2 separate regions of the Homo sapiens genome follow, and region 2 is linked to region 1. A link means that fine-mapping ties the variant in region 1 to the expression of a gene that starts in the linked region. Tissue or cell type: whole blood. Region 1 holds a variant in brackets; the other region holds the start of a gene. All regions are shown on one strand. Distances are between the middles of the regions.

Evidence for each region. PIP is the estimated chance that this variant, and not a neighbour inherited with it, causes the effect.
Region 2: it holds the start of LRCH3, and the variant in region 1 is fine-mapped to the expression of LRCH3 in whole blood (INTERVAL, PIP above 0.99).

What each region holds. Positions count from the first base shown.
Region 1 is chr3:197,835,538-197,838,148 of GRCh38, reverse strand. LRCH3 (leucine rich repeats and calponin homology domain containing 3) reads right to left here. Exons shown (of 21, transcript NM_001365715.1): 9 at 2,327-2,475. The region is part of intron 1 of LOC105374310 (a long non-coding RNA gene); the gene reads left to right. Among named protein-coding and RNA genes, the nearest start is that of LRCH3, 46 kb to the right of the region's middle. The variant A/G (reference allele first, on the strand shown) is at 1,081.
Region 2 is chr3:197,790,191-197,792,801 of GRCh38, reverse strand. It overlaps LRCH3 (leucine rich repeats and calponin homology domain containing 3), which reads right to left and starts at 1,548. Exons shown (of 21, transcript NM_001365715.1): 1 at 1,262-1,548. The coding sequence starts at 1,523. RefSeq lists a silencer at 1,051-1,320 and enhancers at 1,361-1,560, 1,174-1,888.

The DNA of each region.
Region 1 (2,611 bases):
CAGGCCAAGCTACACCACTTTAAACAATAAACACAAATCTCTCCTAGGACGCTGTACCAGTGGCTTACCACCCTAGTTTTTTTTTTTTGGATACAGAATCTTGCTCTGTCACCTAGGCTGGAGTGCAGTAGCACAATCTCGGCTCACTGCAATGTCCGCTGCCCAGGTTCAAGTGACTCTCGTGCCTCAGCCTCCCGAGTGGCTGGGATTACAGGCACCTGCCATGACACCCAGCTAAGTTTTTTTTTTTTAATATATATTTTTAGTAGAGACAGCGTTTCTTCATGTTGGCCAGTCTGGTCTCAAACTCCTGACCTCAAGTGATCCACCTGCCTTGGCCTCCCACAGTGCTGGGATTACAGGTGTGAGCCACCATGTCCAGCCCCATCCTAGTTTTATGATACTGCAATTATCTAAAATTATTCTAAGAGGCACACGAAATTTTCATGACAAAATGAATGTGACATTGGTTTAATTAAAAAAAAAATCATACCATGTTCAGACAGGAATGGTCTATGTATGTGACAAGTATTATAATAAAATTAAATAATAGTAGAGTGTTTAACACCTCACATAGGTTAGTTTTTAACATTCCATTTTTAGATAGTGTTCAGGAAAATAAAAAGATACTTCACTGGTTGTGAAACCATCTAAAATAATGCTGCCTCATCACATTTTCACAGATGCTAAATTTTACGAAAGCTTTATGACACAGAAGTCATAAAGACTACCATACGTAACAGGCAGCCAGAATTTTAAAAATATTATTACAAAACAATACAATGAATTAAAGAAATACTATTTTTTTATAGTAGTATAATAGGCATTTTCACTTTTAGTAGAGATACTCCATTTATACAGCCTAAGTAACCATAACATGATCAAAGAGAAAGACCAGGAAAAAAGAAAATGAATTCCTTTAAGGATTATAATGTGTCATTTTTAATTTTATTGCAAAATAGTTAGTTGCCCCTTGCTCCAGCAGCCTCAACAAGTAGTTTCATCAGTCACCTAGTACACTGCCATCTCTGGGCTGTAGGACTTTGACTTATCTAATTTTATCCAACTTTAAATACAAGT[A/G]TGTCTCTTTACCAACAAAAAATACGGTGTTCAAAAGTATTCAGATAGGAAAAACCAAGGCCCTTTTTTTAAAAAAAAGAATGATAATACTGGCTGGGTGCGGTGGCTCACACCTGTAATCCCAGCACTTTGGGAGGCTGAGGCGGGCAGATCACCCGAGGTCAGGAGTTTGAGACCAGCCTGGCCAACATGGTGAAACCCCGTCTCTACTAAAAATATAAAAATTAGCCGGGCATGGTGGCAGGTGCCTGTAATCCCAGCTACTCGGGAGGCTGAGGAAGGACAATCACTTGAACCTGGGAGGCAGAGGCTGCAGTAAGCCGAGATCGTGCCAAGGCACACCAGCCTGGGCGACAGAGTGACTCTGCTTCATTAAATAAAGAATGATAATATCACTCTACAACATGTCCCACTTGAAATGATTATTCTCTATTTCTTTTTTTTTCTTTCCTTTTAGCTGTCTCAGACCAAAGAGATTCTTCTCTATTTCTAAAAGGATAATACATCATTCTCTAAAAGGGCCCAAGTGTTTCTCAAATAATCACTGCTCAGAGCCTGAAACCAGCTCCAGACATCAACATCACATCCACTAAAGTGAAGCCATTTTATTATGCTGACAAGATAGACTGAAGAATGCTATTCTATCTGAGACCCTTGGGGAATTGGCAGAGATTCTGTAGTGGGCTGAATGCACATTTGTTTTCTAAGGCAATTCAATGCTCCACTTAAGAGATACCCAAGAACTTTAATAGCAAACAATTTACATTCTGTGTGACTTAGCACAAAAGCTCCAATATAATTCAGCATATTATAAAAATTCTATGGTTAAGTCTGCATGTTGCCACAAAAGTCAACTTTTTGGTTTAACTGTTAATTAACTACTGACCAAACTATGATTTATCAGTTAGTAACAATAAAAAAGCAATAAAAACAACAATGAAAAGCATCACTGTATTTTTCTTTGTACTTTCTTCCAAGGCCTTAACAGTACCTAGACTTCTTTTATTCCTCCTGCAAAATTCTGAAATCTTTCTTCTTGTTTGAAAAATAAACCTAAAGCCTACTTGAGGCTGCTGTCTGAGTTTTCTGAATAAATCTGAAAAACTCAGGACTGAAATCAGAAGTGAACATAATGAAAACAATTAGGCTTCAGTCAACAAATCACTGATATAACAAAACTTTATACTATTATGAATTATTTTTATGAAGGGATAGCAACATATTTAGGCTTCAATCTGTGTACTACCTCATGAGAGATTCGCCGCTGTTCAATATACGCCATAAACTGTGAACTAAGGCTGTCTGGGTCTGGTCCCTTGGGCTGTCTCACCTCGGCCTCCTCTTCCTCTGCGGTGCAGCTGTCTATGTAGTCAATCTGATCCAGATCATGTTCCACTGTATACACCACACACACACCCACACACACACACACACCAGAAAAAAACATTCAAATTAGATAGCCAATAAAAGACATTTACTTATTTCCTTTTCCCCATGATTTTCTATTTTGAAAGTGGGAGGGATGATAAAA
Region 2 (2,611 bases), 45 kb after region 1:
CGGGCGCCTGTAGTCCCAGCTACTCGGGAGGCTGAGGTGGGAGGATCACCTGAGCCTGGGAGGCAGAGGTTGCAATGAGCAGAGATTGTGTCATTCCACTCCAGCCTGGGAGACAAGAGCGAGATACCGTCTCGAAAAAATATATATATATTTTATATATAATATTTATATGTATATTATATATATATGTATATTTTATATATATATATATATATATATATATAAAATTAGCTGGGCGTGGTGGCGGCTGCCTGTAGTCCCAGCTACTCAGGAGGCTGAGGTGGGAGGATCACCTGAGCCCGGGAGGTCGAGGCTGCAGTGAGCAGTGATGACGGCACTGCAAACATGATGATGAACAACTCGGGCACCAGACACTGTTCGCCACAACTAAGAAAGCCAAATAATACCTACTTTCTTATTCTCTTTCCTGTGTTCGAAAACATACATAACACGAAGTAATGCTTTAAAAAGGAATAGCAAGTACAAATATGTTAGACTATCTTTTCTAAGTAGTTTGCTTCAACTTTTTTTTGGAGGACATGAGGAGTGGAAGAGGAAACTAATGGGAGTCGGAAAGTGGGCTCTAGTTATTTTTACAAGCGTATTTATTTTGTAAGTCAACTAGATGGAGGCGAAGAAAGACGTTCCAGCGTTCGGGTTCACTTCACACACACCCCAGCACTTCTTTGGGGTTCACTTTAAACACACACACACCCCAACACTTCTCTCGGGTTCACTTTAAACACACACACACCCCAACACTTCTTTCGGGTCCACTTTAAACACACGCTCCCCAACACTTCTTTCGAAAAAACTCCAGGGCTGAGACCGACCCTTCCTGACAATGCAGCTCGTCCAGACACCCCTGCTACTCTGATCTGTGAAGAGCTCGCGCTAACGTTCCCGTCTTAGCAGGTCCATTCGGCACCCCAAATCCGAAAGGGCCTGCAGAAACCGGGGCGGGGCAAGGGTCTACCTCCGCCGTGGCAGAAACTGATTTTCCTCAGAAAGCCTAAAAAATCATCCATCAATCACTCCGGCCCCCTTCCCCGAGAGATGCCGCCGCCCGCCGCCTCTCCCCAGGCTCTGGGTCTGGCGCAGGCCCGGAGGGCTGGCGCCGTCGGCTTCTCCCCGTTACCCGGGTCCGGACCCGGCGCCTACGGGACGAGCTGCTGTAACTCCCCCGCATCCGCCTCCCCCGGCCGGGGCGGCTCCCGGCGCCGGGTCTCCGACGGGCAGAGACGCCCCCCGCCCCGCTCACCCGCCCGGGTGGTGTCCGTCAGGTCGTGGTTGGCCGCTCCCCGGGGAAACTCCCTCAGTTTCCGGCCGCTCAGGCTCAGCACCCCAGTGACCGCCGCCTCCTCCAGGGCTCGATCGAGAGAGCGGCTCCACGAGCCCGGGCCAAAACCAGGGCCTGCCCCGGAGCTTGGGCCGCAGTGAACACCAGGGAGGTTACCTCCCGACGCTACCGTGCCAGAGTACTCGGCAGCCGCTGCCACAGCGACCAAGCCCGCGGCCGCCATTTCCCAGCCGACAACACTCGGGCCCGCCAGCTCAGCGCATGCGCGGCCGGACCGCTGGGTGGGCGGAGAAAGGGGCTCACGGACCGACCCCGGACGGTTCCCGTGATGGGCAGCACCGTGGTGCCCCCCGGCGCAGCCAGGCGCTTGCCCCCGCCCACATGATGCGCTTTTCAAGGGAAGTTAAAACGGACCTCACAAATCCAGAGCAGCCCCCTACTCTAACCTCCCAGGGGCATTTCTAAAATGCCTCTACAAAAACATCTTTCAGGCAACGCTCCGCATCAAAACTTCTCCGCCTTGCTCCCTCAGTAGTGGAGGAGTCGACTAAGCATTAAATTAAGAATTTTTTTTTTTTGAGACAGAGTCTCGCTCTGTCGCCCAGGCTGGAGTGCAGTGGCGCGATCTCGGCTCACTGCAACCTCTGCTTCCTGGGTTCAAGCTATTCTCCTGCCTCAGGCTCCCGAGTAGCTGGGACTACAGGCACGCACCACCACACCCGGTTAATTTTTGTATTTTTAGTAGAGACGGGGTTTCACCATGTTGGCCAGGATGGTCTCGATCTCCTGACCTCAAGTGATCCGCCCGCCTCTGCCTCCCAAAGTGCTGGGATTACAGGCGTGACCTACCGCGCCCGGCAAGGAATCTTTCTTAACACTGCTGCTGCAGAAACTTGGATGGTGAGAGGAGCGGACCCTCTGAGATACGACCTAAACCGTTTCCCAACTTCATTGTATTACCAGATGATCTAAATCAAGGTTTGGTGGACTTACTATGGTTGCTGGAGAGAAAACAAACAAACAAACGTGCTAATTGGGCTCAAAATTCTCATTAAAAACGTATTATTTTATATCATCCATCCCTTTTATAAAATAGCTTTTCTTAATGAAAATACAACAAATATCTTCAATAGTACTTGTACTTTTGGCAAGATTTTATTGTTGGATAAAGCAAGATTATAGTAGTATTAAAATCTAAAATGTTGGTCTGGAACCAAAATTGAGGAACAGAAAATGATCTCACTGTAATCTAAATGTGGGAATTAAAGGTAGAACCGAAGAGATGCTCTAAATTGAAACCACTCAAGAAAT